2 separate regions of the Homo sapiens genome follow, and region 1 is linked to region 2. Evidence: fine-mapped expression QTL. A gene starts in region 2. The other region holds a variant in brackets. All regions are shown on one strand. Distances are from middle to middle.

Region 1 (11,794 bases), 150 kb after region 2:
CAACTCTGACAGCTAGCCAAAGTAGAAGATACTTCTAAAAAGCAGCCTGGGGACATTTTAATTAATTGGCCTGGAAAATCAGGTCAGAATTACAAAGTTCCTCATCCTTATGAAGAAGAAAATGTGATAGTATGTCTTTTATATGGAAATTTCTTTGTATATATGTATAAACTTGGTATGGCCTTAATGCTGCAGTTAAGGATTTGTCTGGCTACCACCTTAAGCAGCGTGTTAAGCAATCGCTTCCTTAATGTAACATTTTTACTTCTTACTGGACACTCAACCTTGAACAACTAATTCCCTTTTGCCCCTTACTCTTCCCCCCTTTTTTTGCATGAAGTCACAAAAGTTATGGCAGTTATTTTTTGGCTTGTAAAAAAAAAAAATCTATTTCTGCAGTTTGAAGATGGAATGTAAAATTTCTGTGAAACATGTATATAAAAGTATATTTATTGAACCATCCATATACACATATCCATGCTGATTCCAATGGAAAAAAATTAAAGTTTTCTGAAATTTTCTGTGGTTAACTCATAATTATTACTATTTAACCAACTTTATATGCAAGAACTTCCAATTACCCCAGGGAGAAACCTATGTATGACCTGGAAAACATCTCACTTTAGACAAGGCTTTATGTCGAGAAATGAGAATTCATTTGTTCATTCAAGAAGTATTTATTGATAGGTGCTAGGCAAGATACAAAGATGACTCAGACACAGATCCTGCCCATAAGGAGCTTACAGTCTAATAGGGGAGAGAGAACACATACATGGAATACATGGTCAGAACTATGTTTCAGTAAGATGAATCTAACATTGTGTATAAAGTAGGCTGGAGTAAGAGGTTAAGTGAAGCTGAGAGACTACTGAAATTACATAGGTGAGGAAGAAAGACGGGAAAGACTTGAGGTAGAACTGACAGGACTTAGCTGAAGACTGGATGTGGGGAATAACAAAAATGGAAGCAGATGACTCAGACTTTAGCATGGATGATGTCATGAACTGAAAGAAGGAACAAGTTTTTGCAAAGAAATGAAAATTTCATATAAAATTCTTCTGCATAGAAACAAACTGTCTGGGATATACTAGGCACAATCAGGAAGAAATGGCTAGTTACCCAGACCAATGGAAGCACCTCAAACTGGCCAGTGACTTCCTCCCCCTTATATATCCATCCCCCCAAATTTCCCAACAATTTTCTCCACTGAAATGGTATAGTGCCTAAAATTTATTAAATTCAAGGTCTATCTCCAGACATGGCCTCCCTTGGGAATGAAAACAGAAATATATTAAGTTATTCAACTCAGTAAGTTTCATCTAAAGACTCTAGTTATGAGTCACTGTACCTTCTGGTGGAATACAGAGATGAACTCCCTAGTCCTTATCTTCTAGGAGCTTACAGTCTAGTAAAGTAGTAAAACAGATAATGTAATTCTAATTCTAGACTGAAGGGGTAAGTTATGAACTACGAGAAAGACAAAGTGCTCTAGAACAGTTTCAGAAATGAAGGTTGGAACAGGACCTCAAACAAGAGGGAAAATGTGGAAAGTAGATGAGAATGGATTTGTTCCTCACTCCAAATTCTGGACAGATCAGCCCCAAAACGGGGCTACTCCCCATTCCTGTTGAAATTTTTTCTTAGGAAAAAATATAGCTCTTGTACTGATCTTTTAAAAAATTACTTACATGGCAAGAGATCAGAGGAAAGGGGGGATTGTAGATCTCAGTGGACCTTCGGGGAAGACAGAAGGCACTTGAAGCCAAGGAATCACAATGCCTGGCTTATCGGGAGGACCCTCAGTGTTTTAGCAAGGCTGGAGCATCACTTCCATGAAGAGTGGGAGAAATAACTCAAAAGTAATATTAAGACCTTGATATAAACATGGCATTGCCAGGCACTAAACAGGGTACACGCCTAAGACCAAATTGCTGCCCCCTAGGAGCTTACAGTTACAACAATACAAGGTGGAAAAAGCACCACAATGTACAGAATGCAAAATGCTGAAGTATTTAGGAGAAATTACAGCTGAGTTTCAGCTATTAACACATTAGGATACCCAATAGCTTTCTGACAGCTAGTAGTAAACCCATCCCTGAGGGGAGCACAAGTTAATGTCCTTAGACAACAAGCCCTGGTAGAGCTGGGCCATTAAAGACAGTTCTAAGAAAATTGAGAAAACAGGGGTATGAAAACTACAGAAGCAACTGGGTGAACATACAAAAAGTGATACCTTCCCTTTTTCTCCTGACAAACTTTAACAGGGCTGCCCTTCCTACAGTGAATCTAAACTGATGATCACCATATTACTTCTAAAAGCAGATTTGGGACTCTACTAACCAATTCTCTCTGATCCTTTGTAAAATGAAGGGGTTGTACAAGTCACTTCCTAGTCCTTTCCAGCACTAACATTCTATGATTCAAAGAATTCTGAGAGTTTCTCTGTTCCTTTTGGTAATAACCAAAATAGAAGAAAAAAATTTAAGTCTGATGCTTCTCACTCAAAAATATAATTATTTTCTATATAAATCACAAATGATCCCTATGCTATCAGCTAAATTTTACTTCCACCCTATCCTTCTTCAAAATCCATGAATTTTTTAAAACCACATGTCCTACAAGCTACCTTAGCATGCACCAAATGATTTTTCAAAAAGTTTTCTCATCTCCTACTCCCTTATACCAACTTCTTGGTATAATGTCATTTAAAGGGCCAAATCAGTGTACATCCAATCTTCATAACAAAATTTTAAAATTTAGGAGAACAACTGACATCAAAGCATGAGGACAGTGAGTAACCGAAGTGGTTTTTGTTGTTTTCTAATTTTTTGTTTTTTAGAGACAGGGTCTCACTCTGTCACCCAGGTTAGAGTGCAGTGGTATGATCATAACTCACTGCAGCCTCCAACTCCTGGGCTCAAGCAATCTCCTGCCTCAGCCTCCTGAGAGACGGAGACTATAGGAATGCGCCACCACATCTGGCTCACTTTTCAATTATCTGTAGAGACAGGGTCTTGCTATGTTGCCCAAGCTGGTCTCAAATTCCTGGCCTCGAGCAATCCTCTGGCCTCAGCCTCCCACAGCACTGGGATTACAGGCATGAGCCACCCCACCCCACCCCAAAGTGATTTTAACTTCAGCAATAGTTAAAACTGTTTCTATCCAGGTTAAACAGGATTTAATCTTCCATCTAATTACTATCAAAAATATAGGCAACCTTCCCCAAAAGTGGGCTTCTGAAAATAAATACTTGGTTCAGTAAATCAATAATTTCTGGTAAACATCCTTAATTTACTTAAAAAAATCCTAAGACACACTGTATGCACACTGTACCTTACAAATCTGGGACACTGGCCACATTTCAAAATACTACACTTAGGAATTTCTGTAATTGGCCAAGTCACATGATTTATTAAAGGAATAGTTGAACAGATTCCCTATATTATTTTCCTCTTACAGGGAATTAAAATAAGCTACTAGGTTCAAGTAGAAACTGTGGAGAGAAGACGAATCCAATGTTTTCAAACAAGTCACATAAACAGAAACTAAAAACCTAATTGCAAGCCAACACATATGCATAATCAAAAACCAAAACTGGTTAAGGGTTTTAGGTAATCTGTAATCATCTTTTTACTCATTTAGGCCTTGATTTGAGACATGAAAGCATGAACAAGGCAGTTTAATTTCAGTGTTGTACTGAGGTGATATCTATCCACTAATAAGAATGTAAATATAAACAAGTTTTATCTCACATGTGCCACCATCTCTCCTTTACTATAGTCTGTTAAGAGTTGACAGGCCCACCTATGGTCCCCAGAATCTCAACATTAAACAAATATAAATCCCAAAAGGCATTACTACCTTAGAACCAGAAATTCTTAGTTATCATCTTGTGCCACACGGCCATTACTTGATCAGCAACTTTAACTTAACCCCTCATCCCACATAAGACATTGCTAATTTTTTTTTGGTACATTAGGCAGTTAGCTAAAACCTGATATTCAAATAAATGCTGATGTTACTTCAAGTTTAAAAACTGCTGAACTAAAAAGGTCAACAATTATCTATATGCAGCATTGCAAAGATTCCTTTAAGTAGCACAAAAAGAAAACTGCAATATAAAAAACATCTTTATAGATTTGACAAATGCAACCATTTAAAAGAAATGTCACTCAGCATAAACAGTGGTCTACAAATCTAAGCTCTTCAAAAAGGTTACCTGTAAGTTCTAAAATGGCCTTCTATAAAGTGCAACATTTTCCATTAAATCGTTAAATTCTACAAGGGTTTTTCAAATAGAGGGATGAAGAAAAGTATCAGAAGGTGACAGTTTATAAGCACAAAACACAAATTCTATAAACTCACCTGGATTATACTATAATAAAAATATTATTATTCACATCCAGATTTGAAGTTTGCATTAAATTATCAAACCTGATGAGAAAAAACTTAAAAACAAACCACCATTATTGTGTTACCATATATAATCTGCAAATCAAAAAAAGACTCACAAAACCCAAGTTTAATTATCTTGTTTGCCCTAAAGGAAATTAAGAACTGTAATGTTAACCTTGTTCTGAATGTATTCCAGACTCAAGTCTCCCTACAGTAGGAAGTTCATTGCGGTCTATGCTACTGAAATGTAATTAGGGGGGCATTATGGTTCTAGAGAAAAAGCATCAGTTTGGGAGGCAAATGTGCTCCTTGCTACATGGATGACTTGGAAGCCTGTCATTTAACTGTTCTGATTCAGTTTCTTCCTCATCTATTGTGCTGAGGACAATATCACCTAACCCGCAGCACAGATGTGAAAATTAACTTTTCTAACCTAAAGTGCAATTCAACTAACACTGTGGTAATGACATACTCAACCAAAGTCAAATTATTATTTTTGGATTATCTATCTCACTGGTCCCTAGCAATATCTGACAAAGTTGAGAACGCTGGAATACACAAAGTAAAACCCAACCTCACCACTAAAACAAAAATACAGTTTAAGGCCCAAGATGTCTAATTACAAATTAACAGGTCTTAAAAAACTAAGACCCACTGAACCAAACAAATCTTATCTAACTAAAATACTCATGAGGCCAGGTGCAATGGTGCACACCTGTAGTTCCGGCTACTTGGAAGGCAGGAGAACTGATGAGGCCAGGAGCTTGAGACCAGCCTGACAACATAGCAAGACCTTGCCTCTATAAAAATAAAAATTTAAAAAAAAAATCTCATGGGTCAAGAGTTCTAAGCTCAGTAGCTAATAACTATACATTGGGCCATTCCTACGGATGAAAATTTTCATTTTAAAATCTGAAAATGTTCAATGTGATGAGCTCCTACTGCTGCCACCTATAGAAAATGTTGCCCTAACTTATAATGATTTTCCAGCAGTGGAAACGTATACATCTCTAAGCTCTCAGGTTTACTCTACATGCAATAATGTACATAATTGTACAAGGATTCTCAACAGTTCTGATCATGATGCTAATCCTATTTCTTAGGTCCAATACTATCATTCAAAACCTCACAATCATCCCAACTCTGATGACAGAAAGCACTGGGGAAGCTTTCTATTTTCTGAGATTGTGCAGTAATTCCCTGCAACAAATTACAAGCAGCATCAGTATGTATTGCTACCACCTCTCCACATTTACACCAACATACACAACACACACATACATTTGGTACAAATAATAAAAAGTGAAATTACTAATTCCTTAGAGTAGATGTTACTGCAATTCTTGAAACAGATTTCCATTTCCTAGTTTGTTATTTATCTGAGGCTGAGTTTCAAAAGAATGAGTCTTCATTCCAGTTTTCCTAATCCCACAGCTCCACCCACCCACAGGAATAGGGACTATCAGTGTTCTCAATGGGGTTGCTTCATTTTTACACAACATTTGGTATCCTTAGACCCCACCCAATAAATGCCAGATGCATGTCTCTCCAACAACCCTTCCAAATTTCACACATTTCCAAATGTCCTCTAGTATGTGATAACACCAAGCTGAGGATTGCTGCATCTAGTTAATGCCCTTAAGTCTCCAAGTAGGAAGAACTTCTGTTTTGAAATGTATAATTTAGTATTCACTCATGAAGGATAATTTCTAGGCTATCCATAATTTATGACCTTGAAGTTACCACAAAGTAATTTTTTTTTCCAAAGTGACTCAGACTAAACTTTTCTTTCCACCCACCACATGCTTAATATAAGCTACAAAAGTATAAGTTGTATTTCTTCCTATTATCAGTGATCTGGGCCAAAAGTGGTTACCAAAGTTACTTTAACCCTACAAAAAAGCCATGTGATTCAGTTACATTAAGTTTATGTAAAGGAGATGCTGCCAATTTTCAAATATTTGAGGAACTGGAACCAAACTGGTAATACCAACTTCACTGTGGTCTTAACCATCACAGCAAACCTAGAGTTTCTCAGTAATGCAAACCAAATATTCCTATGCTATCCTCAAACGACAGTCCTAAAGATGAATACTGTTAAGAAAATAAATACGCTGAATTTTACAACCTGGTTGCCCTTCAATTAGTAATGACAATCACACAAAAGTTTGTTTCACACGTGTAAACAAAACCTTCACCCATCTCACACACAGCACTCAACAAATAACACATATGTGAAACGAGTATTAGTCTATATTGCCAGATTAAATTTTCTTCCAGAAATATTTTAATAAAAATTGGCCATTTCCAAGTAACACCCACTGCATGCCCATCAATAAAAGAGAACCATAACAAAATAGAAAATTTACCATATGGCTATGATTTTAAGAAAAAAAAAAATGCGGACACGAGCACATGAGCAAAGTCCAATATTAAAGTAACATTCCTTCTTACGGGCTATGATTAGGAATCTGATTAGATACCAGAATAAAAATACAAATGCTGAACTATTTAGGTCAAAGAACCTCTATAGAAGCATCTGTCTTCAAAGGCATTCCAGTTTGAGACTCAATTTTAGAATAAGGCATAACAAATATGTTAACAAAAGACATACACAAAGTGATGAAAGAGGGATTCTATAATTCCCCACATACTCTGAACCTAATAAAACAAATCTAGATTTTTTTTTTAAACAATTGCCAAGACTGAAATCAAAGATAAATAGAAGGCACAACAGTTTTGCTCTGGTTGTTATCTGGGTTTTGGGAATTTTTTTGCTTTTTGTTTTTTTACAAATACAAATTAAACATGAAAAAACTACTTCAAAAAAACTAACAGTTCAAGAAAAGCCTATCAGTTGCATTCTAGACATTTAAAACCTATTATCACAATTTAAATTTCAATGGTAAAAACAGTTAGGTTTTAGAATTGTTTTGTGATCCTTTATCAAAAAAAAATTCTATTCCTTTTATTCAGTTTTTAAACATACCAGTGAGAATCAAAATTGTCAAATTTTCCAATGGCAATTTCTCCACACCAGAAGGTAGTCATGACTCTCAAAGAAGAAACAATTTGGGTTTTTCCTGCCTTCAAAATATTATCAAATCCTGTATTTCTTACAGGCTTTTCAAACACGTAGAAAATAAGAAATATTCCAATGAATGAAACATACCAAATGTCAGTAATATGCAAGACATTCCTTTGGGGAAATGGCTGTAAAAAAAAAAAAAAAA[T/AT]CCAGTCTGTATATGCAAAGTAAGCAAGGAAATTCAGTCTTTTTTTTTGCTTCTTTAAAAGTCCGTTATTCCTAAAATATCATTCCACAAAATTGGAAGTGAAAGACTAAAGGTCAGGAAAGGGAAGAGAGGGAGAGGGAGCACACACCATTAACACACAAAAAAAGTAAAATTATACAAACTTAAGCAGTTTATAACAGACTGGGGTCATACTCCAAGATACCAAAGGCTGTCGAAAATTCACCATTCTGTTGGAACCAGGGTTTGTATGGCTGCATGAAGATCCATGAAGATTCACTGCCGTGGCGCAAGCCCCCTTCCCACTCCAAATCCTGGTTTCTGCACCATGCCTCCACGGGGAGGGCCTCTCATTCCACCACCCAGCCCACCTCGAGGGCCTCCAGGTCCCCGAAGGCGATTATCTCGTCGGTCGCCTTCCCTGGCAGCTCGAGTCTTCTTCTCTTCGACATTCAGACGGACCTCACCTCTGAACATGATGGGCTGTAAGAATCAAGGTGACCAGACTTAAGAGTACTGATGAGCTGGCTATCACTATCAAAGATAAAGAAAGCTGTAATAATGAACCAGCAGAGGCTGGGCACGGTGACTCATGCCTGTAATCCCAGCACTTTGGGAGGCCGAGACGGGTGGATTACGAGGTCAGGAGTTCAAGACCAGCCTGACCAACATGGTGAAACCCCGTCTCTACTAAAAAAACACAAAAATTAGCCAGACATGGTGACACACGCCTGTAGTTCCAGCTATTCAAGGAGGCTGAGGCAGGAGAATTGCTTGAACCCAGGAGGCGGAGGTTGCAGTGAGCCAAGATCACGCCATTGTACTCCAGTCTGGGAAAAAGAGCGAGACTCCGACTCAGAAAAAAAAAAGAACCAGCAGATTATAAATCAGCTAAGTTCTCACAGTTCAGTTTTTTGTTTGTTTTTTTAATGAGACAGAGTTTCACTCGTCACCCAGACTGGAGTGCAACTTGAACCCGGGTGGCGGAAGTTGTGGTGAGCCAAGGTCGTGCCACTGCACTCCAGCATGGGCGACAGAGTGAGACTCCGTCCCAATAAAAAATAAAAAATAAAAAAAATTGCCACCTTCTCCATAGATTTGGAGGCTTAGAATAAAACCTCATCATCACCAGTGTGAAAAGATGGTACTGTACATATTTATGCAAAGTACATATACATTTAAAATAAAAACTTCATTAATTTGACATAAACTTTAATTTGCTCTTTAACACCTCCTGAGAATTTTGGATAGTCTTGGCCTTCGTTTCCTCCTAACAGAGCCAAAGTAGTTAAGGGGCTACGAAACATTTCAATATATTCAATTTATGCTCTTCACCAGCAATGTAATTTTCTAATTTCTTAAAATGAGTATCTAAGAGTACTTACTATGTGTCGCGGAAGTGTTCTATTCAAATTTATTTATTTATTTATTTTTTGAGATGGAGTCTCGCTCTGCTGCCCAGGCTGGAGTGCAGTGGCGCGATCTCGGCTCACTGCAAGCTCCGCCTCCCAGATTCACGCCATTCTCCTGCCTCAGTCTCCCGAGTAGCTGGGACTACAGGCGTCCGCCACCACACCCAGCTAATTTTTTGTATTTTTAGTAGAGACGGGGTTTCACCGTGTTAGCCAGGATGGTCTCAATCTCCTGACCTCGTGATCCGCCCGCCTCGGCCTCCCAAAGTGCTGGGATTACAGGCGTGAGCCACTGTGCCCAGCTCTATTCAAATTTATTAGCTCACTTAACCTTTACAACAACCCTCTGATGGTAGATACCTACTTTAAGGACTAGCAAACTAAGGGCCGGGGAGGTTAAGTAACTTGTCCCATGGGTCACAACACTAATGAGTGATGAAAGGAGAATACAAACCAAGGCCTCCAGGGAAAAATAAGCTTTGAAACGGTAAGCTACACTACAGTATGTCATACACCACGGCAATCAGTCTTACATAAGCTATTTCTGCTCACACAAAAAATTAGTGAAGGGAGCATAGTAGACTTCTATCAATACCATGAAATGAAGGGTGGCCACTAGGCCTAATACATGCTGAATGATGGATTTATCTACAAAGCCTACTGGACATTTCTGGGTTCTTCAGTGGCTTTGGTGAGATAAACCACTGTTCTCTCATTTCTCAAACAGTATTTTGCAGGAGATGCTTCACAAAAATAAATGGTCAAATAATTTGAAAGATAATGTATATTTGCATACTCAGGTTGACATGTTATAACCACAACATTAAACTATGCAGTAAGGCCAGGTGCATTGGCTCGCACCTATAATCCCAGCACTTTGGGAGGCCAAGGTCAGCGGATCACCTGAGGTCAGGAGTTCGAGATCAGCCTGGTTAACATGGGGAAGCCCCATGTCTACTAAAAATACAAAAAAATCAGCTGGGCATGGTGGCGGGTGCCTGTAATCCCAGCTACTCAGGAAGTTGAGGCAGGAGAACTGCTTGAACCCAGGATGTGGAGGTTGCAGTGAGCCAAGATCACACCATTGCACTCCAGCCTGGGTGGCAGAGAGAGACACTGTCTCAAAAAAAAAAAAATAAAAAAATAAAAAACTTTGCAGTATGCCCATTAACATTCTGGAGAATATCACTGATCTGCAGTATTTTTATTATATGGTTTAAAGTACACAATTTTAATTCATAGGGACAGAAAGCAGATTAGTGGCTGCCAGGGGTTGGGAGACAGGTACAAGGAATGACTGCTTAGTGAGTAAAGAGCTTATGGCTTTTAGTAAAAAACTTTTGGAATTAAAGGTAATGGTTGCACAATAATGTGTTCTAAATGCAATTAAGTTGTACATTTTTAAATGGTTAATTTTGTTATGTAAATTTCACCTCAATAAAAAAGTATAGCTTAGTAAATTAATATTATTTATACACTTGTTCTTCTCTACTACTACAAAAAGTAGTTTTTTGCTAGAGGAAGGGAAGCTTTCTTTGGGGATCCCACAGTAAGATTTCCATTCTACAAATTCTTCTATTATTAGAACGTACAGAGTAAGAGTACTGTTAGTAAGGATGGTTCCAAGTAGGTTGACTATATAATTTATCTTCCAAATCCAATTTATTAACTTAAAGAAGAAGCTCTTAATAGTTATTCTCTAAAAACAGCAGTATACCAAAACTGTCCTGGGCAAACTGGCTCTTATCTTAGTTAATAGTTAGAAGTAGGTTTGTATTTCATCTCCTGTATACCAAAAGCCACCACCAAGGAAAGGTAGTTACGTAAATCTCAGTGCACTGATAACTATTCATTTTCTCATTCTCATAATTCATGTTTTCAAAAACTAAGTTACTTAAACATAAGGTTTGTTTTCCTAAACCCCCAGGCAAGTCTTTTAATAATGGTTGAAAATAATGAATAAATTACCTGAACATGTTGGAATAAACTGCACTTTACATAAAGACCCAGCTGTAAAGATATATTCTAAAGAACCAAAACCCTTTTTAAAAAAAAAAAAAAAAAATCAAGACAAAAAGCTGCTTACCCTGTTGCTAAGGACTTTCTGAACAGGCTCAGAATCATCAAACACAACAAAACCAAAATTGGGTAATTTCCCACCACTGTTAATGCGCAACTCCACCACGTTTCCATAACCTGCAAGTGAAACACATTCTCAGATAACTACTTAGACCATTATCTTTAAACATTACATGTACACAGTCCAATACAGTAGCCACTAGATGCATGTGACTACTGAGCACTTGAATTATAAATATAGCTAGTCTGAATTGAGATGTGCCTCTCATAAGTGTAAAATTATGGGAGGCACATTTGGATTTCAAAGATTATGAAAAAGTGTAAAATATCTCTCACAATATTCTTACATGTTGAAATGACAATGCCTTAAGTTAAATGTTATTAAAATTATCCAGTTTCTTTTTACCTTTTTTTTTTTAACCATGACTACTAGAAAATTTATAATTACATATGTGGCTCATTTTCTATTGCTACTGGACAGTGCTAGAGAGACACTAGATGAATTTAGTGTTCAAAACTCAATAACCTACTTTGAAAGAAATCTTTAAGCTCTGATTTGTCCACTTCATGAGGCAGGTTGCCAATGAAGAGTTGGTGACTGTCAGGGTGTCTCACCATTCTTCGGGGTTCAATGTCACCTTGCTCACCAGCCTCACG
Region 2 (12,590 bases):
GCTCTTACAGAACCCAAAGTCTTCAAATGACCTGTGAGATCCTGTAGCATGCAGCCCCATTCACCACTCTGGTGTATGTCTCCTGCTGCTCATTGCCTCACTAAGCTCTACCCGTACTGGCTTTCTTTTGTTCCTACCACATGCCAAGTACCTTCCCTTCCTCAGGACCTTTGCACATGCTGTTTCCTCTGCTTGGACTGCTCACCACTCTCCTCTCTCTCTTCACTGAGCCAACTCCTGTTCACCCTACATGTCTCAGCTTAAATGCTACTTCCTTAGAGGAGAATTCCATGCTTCCACAACTCCACAGTCCATGCACCTGAGCATCTTTTTCTCTGCCATTGTAGTAGTAGTTGTAGTACTGTAGTAGTAACAGCAGCTAACATTTTCTCAGGGTTTATGACATGCCAACTTTGGTTCTAGGTACTTTTCATTTTTAACTCCTAATAACAACCCTAATGAAGTAGCTATTATTACTCCCCCCTCCCCCACTCAGCAGATAGGGGAACTCTGGGCCACAAAAGTCAAACAACTTACCGAACAGCTCCAAAAGGTAAATGGTGGGGCTGGAGTTCAAACTCACCAAGTGGGGCTTCAGAATTATTTACTCAATGAATGTTTTCTCCATAGTACTCAGAGGCCAGGAATCAGGTCTTGCTTAACACCCCATCACCAGTATGCAGCACAAAGCCTGGCACATGGTAGGTACTATATAAATATTTGTTGAATAAGTAAATGAATGAATAAGTTAGGATGAAGCCCAAGGATAATAATCTAGATGGTGAGAGGTCTGGAAATTATAAGAGAAATGGCTGGCCGGGCGCGATGGCTCATGCCTGTAATCCCAGCACTTTGGGAGGCCGAGGCGGGCGGATCACAAGGTCCGGAGATCGAGACCATCCTGGCTAACACGTTGAAACCCCGTCTCTACTAAAAATACAAAAAAAATTAGCCGGGCGTGGTGGCGGGCGCCAGTAGTCCCAGCTACTCAGGAGGCTGAGGCAGGAGAATGGCGTGAACCCAGGAGGCGGAGCTTGCAGTGAGCCGAGATCGCGCCACTGCACTCCAGCCTGGGTAACAGAGCAAGACTCCATCTCAAAAAAAAAAAAAAAAAAGAGAGATAAATGGCTGAGGGTGAAGAGAATGCTTAACTAAGAGAAAAGATGCAGGGCTGACTTAACAAGTGAGAAGGAAACAAAATTCTTCTGAGCGGCTGCAGAGGGCAGGGCCAGAAACAATGAGTAAAAAGCAGAGGAAAGAGATTTCAACTCAGTAAAAAGACCATCACTCAACAGAGGCCAAAGTATAAGTGCTTCCTTTAGGTAGTGGAGGGCCCCATCACAGTAAGTATGCAAACACAGGCTACAACAACATTGGATAGGAAAGCACCTGGAAGGAGTCAAGCTTCAAACTGCATCGGTTCTGTGTGTGTCCCCACCCCTAACAGGCTAAGAACCTGTGAGTCCATACACCCCTCTTTGCACCCCTTATCCCTAGACATTCCAAAGGAAAAATTTTAGCAGGGAAATACACCCACAGGGGTTGTCATAATTTGCTCCTAGCTGAAAATAGAAAGATGGACTGGAGTCATAAAAAATACAATAGCAAAAGGCTCTCCCTTATTGTGAGAGCCACTAGGCCCAGGATCAAAGTTGGACTCAGATGAAACAATGAGGCCATTTCCTACCCCAGCAAAACTGCAGTCAGGTTATTCCACGGCTCAGCTGCCCTGCCTCTCTCAGATCACAGCACCGCTCTCACGGATGAAAGGGACAGTCTGGTGTTCCTTGAAGCTTATGGCTGGGTACCTTTCATTTGCATTTAATTGAATAGAGCAGGCGACAAAAAGGTGCTCCTACTAGATGACCTTTCAGGGCCTTCCCTGCTTATATTTTGATTTTGTGAATTGAATTAGGTTGAATTGGAGCATGTCAGAAGTAGGAGGGAACTTAAATATCATCTAATCTACTCTCTTTGCATTAGAGAGAAGGAAATTCAGGCACAGAGAGGGGAGATAGCTTGTCCAAGGTTACACAAAAAATCCTAGAAAAATTGGAACTCAACCACTTATCTCCCGACCTCTAGTTTGCATTCTATCTTTCTCCATTTCTCCAAGAGAGTTTTCGGAGAGTTGGTGCTTTCTGAGATAACGCAGGCCCCATATATCCAGCTTCTTTGGCATCACCTATGTGGAGAGCCATTGGCATGGATTTACTTGGTGGAGGCTCCACTTGGAGCCAGGAATTAACTCCCAATGCCTAAATAATTTTTTCACAAAGACTAGGTAATTTGGTTTTCTCTTATCCAAGCCAGGTGATCTGGAAGCAGGAGCAGAATGGAGACCAGAAAGGCATGTGCCCAAATGACCTACATGACACCTGTCAGCATTCTGATTTGTTTGGAGACTGGGTCACAAAACTGTTACATTGAAACAAAAACAAACAAAAATATCTAGAATGAGTACGCTGAAAATAATCTTAAAGATTTCCCAATCCTGTGATTCCCCAAGTACTACTTCCTGGATGTGCCAAGTTGACATAAAAAAAATAAAGGAAATGTTTAATAATATTTCTATGTACGCATACAAATGTATGCACACTTTTCCTGAGATAGGCCATCCTTTATTCTGAGATTAAGTTTTTCCTTCTTTTATAGTTATAACATATCCTTTATTTTATAAAATTATAGTGATGATTAGCTTTCTATCTTGAATTTAATATTCTTACCTGGCAAAATGAAAATTGACAACAAAGTTGACAACATGTGTCGGGTTCTCTCAATTTTTTAGAAATTTTAGAAATCCACAAAGTCTTGAAACTACAGTCTTCCTTTTTACAACTGTGAGACTAGAGGACCCTGGAATAAAACCGTGTTTCCAAGTTCTTACAGTCTGTTACAAACCAATTCCAAAGCTTCAGGAGCCGTCAAGCTACTCTAATCCTAACTCAGCATTAAAATTGCTGTGGGATCCTGGGCAAATTGCTTAATTTTGAGTCTCTACTTTCACATCTAGAAAGTGGACACAATAATCCCTGCCCTGACTTCTTCACAGGTAGCAGAAGGTCAGCATGTGTGAAAGCGCTTTGAATGTAACGAGATAGCATAATCAGCTCTGTGCAAGCAGTTGCAAACCCTTGGTGCTTGCAGGGCAGACAGGAAATAGGAACAAGTGAAGCAGGCCAAGTGTGAGTGAACAGACGGCAGCTACCGCTCAGCCTCAGTACTGAGAATGCAATGAGGCAGGGTGGGGAGTGGGGCAAACTAGCAAGTTCAGCATCTGAAGGGAGGAGAGTGGCTACCCCAGCCAATTTTTGCCATGTTTTAATGTGGGTCCAATGTAACCAGATATTCTCATTTTCAGAAATACTGGAACCTTACATTTTTATGTGCTATGTTTTGATTTATAAACATTGGCCACAAATTCAAACTTCAAAAAATTGTGAGAGACAAACAAAACTTACCATATGGGGATTGCCTGTATGTAAGCCCCTGGTCTGACTCCACACCTATCTTTTTCTGAAAGTCCCATGGGCAGGTCATATTAGAAAGTGCCAAAGCAATCTTTATTGCCTAACAAGAACACAGCTCAAGAAAAAACTGAACAATACAAATTTGCAATGAAGACCAGCCCCCAAGGGTCGATATACACATTTCAGGGTTAGGCAAGGGATAAAGCTGGTTGAAGAAATACTTCATGAACTAGGACAACACTCTCTATAAAAGCTCACCCACTAGTTTAACATTCTCGATCAGTTCTCTGTCCTCTTACCCAATTTTAAACAAAATTTCCTCATCCTAAAAATGGGGCAAATTACACATGTTAAATTATACATATCTAATATATCTACTTATATGAGACTTTGTGTATAATTTGACAAAACAAGGATGGTAAATACGCAGCAAGATTGTTTTGTTCCTGATAATGAGGATGAAGATAACTAACTGCACGGCAGGCATAGTTCAAAAAGCTCTTTAAATTATTAATTAATTTGATCCTCATGGCAACTCAATAAGGTAGATACTCCTATCATCAGCATTTTACAGACATGAAAACTGAGGCACAGAAAGGTTAAGTAACTGCTCAAGGTTACACAGCTGAAAAGTGCCAGCACTGGAGTCCATTGATTGCAGCCTTCTTTCCTGCTGTGCGTCAGAATCCTTGTCAATAGAGTGATCCAAGAGGCTCCTACCCACTGATCAAGTTATCAGGCAGTTAAAATCTGTCTTCCCAACTCCAGCCCAATGTAATGCCTGGCACAGAAGAGATCCTATTACCCTTATTAAATACCGGCTCCCTTCCTCATACTTCATACTTTTTCATAAAGACCAAATCATAGGATGTGTGTAAGGCAGGGTATCTCAACCTCAGCACTGTTGACATTTTGGGCCACAGTTCTTTGTTGTTGGGGGCTGGTCTGTGCATTTTAGGGAGTGTGGCAGTATCCCTGGTCTCTACCCACCAGACAGCAATATCACACTCACCTATCACCCATCCCCCATGACAACCAAAAATGTCTTCAGACATTGTCAAATGTCTCCTGGGGGACAAAACTGTCTCCAGTGGAGAACCACTGGTATAAGGTATGATTAGTCAAACTCCTCCTCCTGTACCCACAGTGATTCACCCGCTTCCCCTGGCTTCTCACAGCTGCCGAGTCCCACCCCATACTGTGAGTTATCTTCACCCCTCACTGTGGAATAACAGGCATCTCCCCAGGAACTGCCTACTCCACTGTTCTAAAACAGTTCCCTGAGAACTTTCCATTTTAAGGGTTTCATTGTTAATTCCTGTAGGAAATGGTTGAGGTTTGGGGGGCAACAAACAAGACAGGAATGGGGAAATAAAAGTTCCAGAGTTCTCATAACAGTAGAAACTTGTTAGACTTTCTATTAAGTTGGTGCAAAAGTAATTGTGCCCTTTGCCATTGAAAGTAATGGAAGAAACAGCAGTTACTTTTGCACCATTCTAATACCTCATAGGGTGGATATCCTAGCCAGAGCCCTTTCAAACCATTATCCAAAGGGTGGTTTGGAAGAGCTCAGCAAAGGCCCAGCATATGAGAAGCACTCAGGTAAATTATAACTATAAACAGTAATGACCTTAAATTATTGTCTCTTCATTCGACAGTCTCGCTATGCCTACCAGGTGCCAGCAATTTTGTAATTGCTTTACTTACATTAACCTACCCCTAATACTGACAAGGGAGGAACTATCACTACATGGGCAGTTTACAGATCAAAAAATTGAGCTTCACTGCAGCTGAAAAACTTGCCAAGCTCAAACTAGACAGTGGGAGAACATGACCCAAGCCTGCCACCCCCCAGCAGACAGAAGGTAGCTTGGACGGCAAGAAGAGGTTCACAACCCAGCTCTGCCATTCACTCTTCAGTGGCCTGGAGCCCATAAGTCAACCTTTCTGGGACCCATGTCCTCATGTATAAAACAAGAGGCCAGATGAGAGTTCGTCTGGCTCTAAAATTTCATAACCCTCATCCATTATTCTCTCTCTTCTTAAACCTTCTTCCAACACAAATGATGATAATTCGTCATTAAATTAGGATTTCAAAAAAAGTTGTTTAAGAAGAAAAAAAGATTGTCTCAAACTGAATGTTTCTTAGTATAAAACTCCATTTTCTCACTAAATACCGGATTAATGCTGTTTAAATTGCATTGCTGGAATGAGTCGGGGAGGGGAGAATTAATGAACTTCTACTAAGCAAAAATGTTCATCAGCTGGAGAAGATCTAAATTAATGAGGAAGAAACACTAAAAAACAGTCATGGCAGGCCAGCTTTCTCTAGAATTATATTATTAACAAAATGCAATGAAACGGCAATTGGTTTGAAGTGGAGAACAAAGAACAATCAAGGAGAAATGCAGTGGCCTGTTTCATTCATAGCATCCCCGAAATGTAGAGTGGGAAGGAAACCCTGGTGAGTTTATCCTTGATAAGTAACCAAAATAATACTAAGAGCAACTGTTAAGGATTTTACGTATATTATCTCATTTAACCCTCACAATCCAGTAGTGTAAGCTCTGTCTCCATTTCACCGCTAAGGCAAGTACATCCAGAGATGTTTACTTCTTGCCCACACAGCACAGCCAGTATTTAAACCCAGATTTAACATCAAATCCTGTTCCCACAACCTCCACACCACATACTGCTTTACTTTGGCTAGCCTCTGGTTGAATATCTCAGCTGCCAGGAGATTTACTACCTCACAAGGTGGCCCAATTCAGCATCTTCCCGAATTGAATATTCCTCCTTGTAACTTTGTCCAAAAGACCTCCAGGGGTGTCCAAGGGAGAAAATACAATTATGGGTTCTTAGTTTCTGATTCTGGTTAGGCCACCAAAACCCCTCCCTCATCCCTCTTTTTCACTTATCACTAGAGACAGAAACTAAAAACCATGGCTTTCAGGCTGCTAAAAGTCTAAAACAAAACAAAACAGAACAACAATAAAAATAAGGCAGGTTGGGCAAGCTTGATAGACTCTGACCCCACCTCCACTCACCCACAGTGTGTTCCATCATCTCCTCCTTCCCTATGGCAGCCCTTCAGAAGTTTAAAGTCATTGATCACCGTGAACATTCTTACCTCCAGGGGAAAAGCCTCTCTCATCCTTTTCCTTGTTCTCCATATGGCAAGGTCTTCAGCTCCTTCCTCTCTTACTCACATTCTTCAGAACACACTCAGGTTTGACAATGAGATTCTTAGAGAACTGAACCCATATTTCCAAGTGTATCCCAGCCAGAAGAGAATGCAGAAGGACCATCTCCTCCCTTATTCTAGGCTTGCTACTTCTGTTAATGCACTCCAAGAGCGGCTCATCTGTATCAGCAGCCGGGTCACATATTGGCTTATGATGGACTTGCTCCCAAATAGCTAGGACCTCTCTAGATATTTTTCACACATGGCCTTCTTAGCTAGTGTGTGATCAGCTGAATTGTTCAACAATTAGTTGGTTCTAAGCAGAATGCAATTAAATAGATCCCACCAGACAAAACCACCAAAGAAAACTCCAGTGTTCTATCCCACTCGAAATCCTTTTTTCTTCATGAAGTGACTGTTATCAGTTGGTCCAACAGGAATAGAACATCCTGTTCACCAATAAAATAATCACTGCTCCTTATAAGCCCTGAGGCCTTTGTTTTATCAATCATTTCCATGTCAGTAACAAAAACTACCATTTTAAGCACTGACTATGAGATACGCTCCAGGCAAGTTGATTACCCTAACACTTAATGATAATCCTACACGTTCAGCATTATAATTTCCTTTTTCCGGATGAAGAAACTGAGCCACAGAGGAGTTTAGTGACCTGCTCAAGGGTTCACAACTGTCTTAACCTTTTTTTTTCCTGTCAGTGCCAGGTGTATTAGTCCGTTTTCACGCTGCTAAGAAAGACATACCCAAGACTGGGTAATTTATGCAGGAAAGAGGTTTAATGGACTCACAGTTCCACATGGCTGGGGAGGCCTCACAATCACGGTGGAAGGTGAGGAGCAAGTTACATCTTACGCTGCTGGCAGAAGGCAAAGAGAGATCTTGTGCAGGAAAACTCCCCCTTATAAAACCATCAGATCTCATGAGACTTATTCACTATCACGAGAACAGCACAGAAAAGACACGCCCCATGATTCAATTACCTCCCACCGGGTCCCTCCCACAACATGTGGGAATTGTGGGAGCTACAATTCCAGATGAGCTTTGGGTGGGGACAGGGCTGAGATTCAAACCCATCTTTGGTACTGGATCCAAAGCTCACACTTTTTCCCCCACAACACAATGTCTTCCAAGTCCAAAACTTCCTGCATTGGCCCATACTGGGCTGACAAGTTTCTATCTACTTACGTAACTTCTTATTTGATTGTCACAAACACCCTAGGATTTGGGGACAGGATAAACTAAAGGACTTGTGCAAGTCCCAAGGGCTGGTCTTCTTTCCGAGTTCTCACTGGTTATTCTCTTCTTGTCCTGCATCCAGGCACAGAGGCCCCTCATTCTGCCTTGTTAATCTATGTTCTTGTTTCTTGCCGAGGATCTCAGAGCTCAGAGGGCCTCTGCAGGTCAGAGGGTTGGAAAGGGCCAAGTTACTCCCCTGCAGAGAAAACCAATCAATCTTATGTCGACCCACCTGCTCTCAAAAAGAGCAGCTGATCAGCCACAGCTGATAAAAAGGAGGTGATTTAAAGGTCAAATGAAGGCTGGATGTCTATCTGCCCTCCTTTTGTGACAAATGTATCTGAGATGTGAGCACAGTGAGATGGTGTTATTTTAAGATGGGTGGCTTATCAGGAAGACTGAATTCACCCAGCCTGTGTCAGCTCCATTTTATAAAATGCAGTGTCCAGGAGTTACAAAAGGTAAAGCAATGGGGTGAAATGAGCACTGGAATAGGAGTGTTTTTCCAGAATACATATCAAGGCTTGGCACCAGCTACTGGTCTTTGGGCCTACTGCTTGAGCCCTTTGAGTCTGATGTGGTTCATCTTTAAAATGAGATTATACAAGCCACCATCATAACAATGCTATGATAAGAAAGCAGAATTGCCTCTTGGATTCCTAGTCTCGTGTTGTACTATACAAGAGATGCAAGAACCCTCAGAAAGCAGCTAGCAAAGCTGGTTATAATTAGTGTAATCCTATAATCTCCTCCAATCCCCTAGCAATCACCAGCACCTCTCTGAAACCTCAGTTCACCAGGATATAGTCTAAAGACCAGCTACCTAACAGTCCATTTTTGAAATGGGAAAACTGAGGCCCAGAGAAGTGAAGTGACTCAAAGCCTTGAAGTGAGTTTATTACAGAATCAAGACTAGAATGCAGGACTCATAGTTCCAGTTTAGTGCACTTTTATTTATTTTTTTCGACAGGGTCTCACTCTGTCACCCAGGCCAAAGCATAGTGGTTGATCACAGCTCACTGCAGCCTCAACCTTCCAGGCTCCAGCGATCCTCCCACCTCAGCTTCCTGAGTAGCTGGGACTACAAGCATGTGCCACCACATCCAGCTAATTTTTTTTTATTTTTTTCTTTGTACAGTCAGGCTCTCATTATGTTGCCCAAGCTACAATTTCTAATATGACATGCTAGTATGGCTTGTTCCTCTTTCCATGTGTAACTATATGTGTATAATATACAATGTTCTACAAAGTAACTTTCAAACTCCTTAGATCCCTAAGACTCCAAAAATGTGACAGTGACAAGAAAAGGCAGGATTCTTACCTCTGCTCCAATCAAGGCAAGTCTGTGTTTTTCCCTAAAATCTGTTAATAGTGTCAGCTAACATTTATTGAGCACTTAATACCAGGTTATATGTGAGTATTTTTAATGTGCATCATCGTACTTAATACTCCCAAGAGACTGTGAGGTAGCTGTTAGTCTTTTTCCCATTATAGAGATGAGGAAACTGAGGGTGAGAAAGGTTAAGTCGCTTGTTCAAAGCCATCCAGCAGGAAGTGGAGCAGGAGTCACACCCAGGTAGACTTACCCACAGGGCCTTTACCAGCAACCCTGTGTTCTTCTACCCAAGTACAATTTCCTTTAAAGAAAGGGACCCACCTCCTACCTATTATTTTTTCTTCTCTTCTTTACATTTTTTTAGTTTGGAAGGCACTACTCTGAGGTTGAGAAGAAGCACCCCAGTTTCTCTAAGTGCCTCACTGTGTGTGTTGGGTAGAGCGTCTTAGTGAATAGGTCAGTCTTCCCCAGAAGTGAAGCAGGGGGACTCACCAAAACTGTGCCCTCCACTAGGCCAACAAAGTGCCCGAGAGACCTTCCACTGGAGCTGCAGCGCTGTCAGTGAGGCCACTGCAAAGGCAATCATCTCAGCCTGAATGTGCTTCCCTCCCCTCGTCCATGTCATCTGCAGGTGCTTCATCTGCAACAGTTCCACCAGGGAGATGAGACAACAGCAGCCTTGGTGTGCACGCAGCTTCTCTGGAGTCATGCTAGTTTACTATCAAGCCCAAATCCAAACCTCAGCTTTGAAACAACCTACTTTCCTTCAATAAATTCCTGCAGCTTTTACTTGTCCCTGATCTTTTCTGCCTTGACCCCAGAAATGCCAGCTACACATGGGGCTGCTGAAACAAAGGCTATATATAAATGCCTGGGCCTTGAGATTCCTATTTCAAAAGTAGACGATACACTCCTGCTTAAAGGTCCCACTCAACTCCCGAAGCTTGCTTGGGACTGAGTGGCTGGGTCCCTTTGGAAAGGACCCGAAAAGGAGATGCCAGATAGACTTGGAAAGGACCCAGAAAGGAGATGCCAGATAGACATCCTCTGACCTAAAGTACCAGTAAGCAGGGACAGCAGATCCCAACGCCTGCTCTAGTAATGCTGCCCAGCTTTCCTAAATGAATCCAGGTATCAGCCAAATCACTCTACAACCACCTAACACAACACAGGCCTGAGAAGAGTAGCATAGGATGTTATTTAATGACAAGGAATTATGTTCATGATTGTCAAGGGGAAAACTCTATACAATAAATAGTACATTTCAGTTTCATATTTTCAACACACATATTTATGCAAATTCAAATAAAATAAATGCACTAAAAGTTTTAATGAGATATTGTTGTATAAACTGTTTCTATTATAGTTTTTCACTTAAAGTAGCATGAACATCTTTCTGGATACACACAAGTGTGTATGTGTGTGTTATGAGTGTGTGTGTGTGTGTGTGTGTGTGCACCTCCTCTGTGTTAGATTACCTGTGATTTTTGTTCTTTCTTATTTCCATGTTTTGGGAAGAAAGCTATTGAATTTGCATGCCTGCCTCCTACTTGTCCTTTGAGGAACAATCCATTCCACCCAAACAGTTGTGGCAGGGCGATGATAGTGCTCTCATCCCCACCAATACTGCCACATGACTCAGGCTAGGCCAGCAGAGCCCTCCCTCCCCTCGTGCACAGTGAATGGTTCAGAGGAGAGCTCATGGCCCAGAGGAGCTTGCGTCTCCTCTAAGACTTACTATCTGAGCATTGTAAGGAAGAGGAGCTTGCTTGTCCTCTGGGATGTTAAGCTAAAAAGACCATAATTAGCCAAGAATTATTGGGAGATTTATTATGCTGCTTCCAGTATATGGAGAAATCCTTTCTTAGAATGAAGGCAAGACAGATCAGAAAACAGAGCCAGGAAGTGAAGAGAGAGCCCTAATGACATTGATCTTCAGGATCCAGCCATGACTAAAGCTGGAATGATCCCTGAAATTCTCAGTGATGTGCCCTAATAGATTTCCTCTTATACTATGTGAATTAAATCTCTGTAAAAGACACAGCACCTGTGTTTTCTAATAAACAACTATGTGTGCATATGTATATATATGTATGATATATCCCTTTTTATGAACAGTAATAATAAATTCAATCCATTCTTCAAGCTTTATGAGTGTATTCCTCAAAAGTCTCTTCTCTGTTTATGGCATCAATTTTGCACTCCATACTGCCATATATTGTTAATTCATTGATTTTTCATATGTCAGAATCTCCCCAAATAAATAAGTTCCTTGAAGAAGGAGTTGTGTCTACCTTACTCCATAACACCCAGCACCATGCATTGTTCAAAGTAGGAATGTGAAAAGCTCCACCCCACCCCCTCACCCCATCAGCAGACATGCATTTAAGTTAGATTTCTTCTCAGCAGGATGAGGTGCCTTACAGCATTCTCACTCCTGTAAGTTCATTAGAAGAGAGCTACCTAGCATTTGGGTCTGTGTTCATGTTCATCTGAGAAGACAAGCAAGATCCTCTCTCTTACAACACTGAGATAGTAAGAGAAGAGGCTCTTACTCCTCTTAGAGGAGACTCAAGCTTGAACTGGGCTACAAGCTCTCCTCTGAACCTTTCACTGTGAATGAGGGGAGGGAGAGTTCTGCTGGCCGGGCCTGAGTCATGTGGCAGTATTGGCGAGGATGAGAGCACTATCATGGCCCTTCCACATGATCAAACCCAGAATCACTGAATGTCAGAGTGGGAAGAAACTTCAGCCATCACCCCGCCCAGTGGTTTTCAAAGTGGTTTTATGAAAGCCTGGGGCTGTGCATGGATGTCAGGAGGCAGACATCCCAAAGTCTGATGAGAGAAGCAAGCGGTTATGCTGAATGGACTAAATCCATGCCTGTTTCCACCAGAGCAGTCTTTATTTAATCCTTTTAAATACTGAGGTTGTTAAAAATGCTAACTCCTGGGTTCTTTCCTAGACATACTGAAACCTATGGTCAGATTTGTGATTCCAGCATTTTCTTTTTAACAAGCTGGCACTAAAGTTTAGGCAGCATGACTCTAGCGTCCCCAGAAATTGAGCCCCTTGACATCCATATCTGGAAATCCCATCCATCCTTACCAGTTCCCTGCCTAGCTAACCTCCACCCTCCTGAGGCACAGTAATTGAATGTCACATGTTGAGCATAATCCTAGAAAATCCTCTGTCATCATGCTGAAGTCCCAACAGCTTGTAGTAATTAGATCTAGACTGGAAAGAGGTACAAAGGAATCATACACTGTTACAATTTGAAGCTTCTGAGGTTCATGCAATGAGGGAGACCAGGATCAACCAAAGAAAGTGTAGCTACAAATTCCAA

Which allele goes with the higher level. Alleles are on the strand shown, and positions count from the first base shown. SD is a standard deviation of normalised expression in the study named.
For the expression in prefrontal cortex of the gene that starts at base 7,517 in region 2, allele T in region 1 goes with a lower level than allele AT (large effect, 1.5 SD a copy in CommonMind).

What was found. PIP is the estimated chance that this variant, and not a neighbour inherited with it, causes the effect.
Region 1: its variant is fine-mapped to the expression of LINC01933 in prefrontal cortex (CommonMind, PIP 0.95).

Annotation. Positions count from the first base shown.
Region 1 is chr5:151,800,220-151,812,013 of GRCh38, reverse strand. G3BP1 (G3BP stress granule assembly factor 1) reads right to left here. Exons shown (of 12, transcript NM_005754.3): 10 at 11,668-11,794; 11 at 11,145-11,254; 12 at 1-8,129. The coding sequence ends at 7,923. Among named protein-coding and RNA genes, the nearest start is that of G3BP1, 34 kb to the right of the region's middle. The variant T/AT (reference allele first, on the strand shown) is at 7,629.
Region 2 is chr5:151,953,825-151,966,414 of GRCh38, reverse strand. LINC01933 (long intergenic non-protein coding RNA 1933) reads right to left here and starts at 7,517. Exons shown (of 3, transcript NR_109876.1): 1 at 7,461-7,517.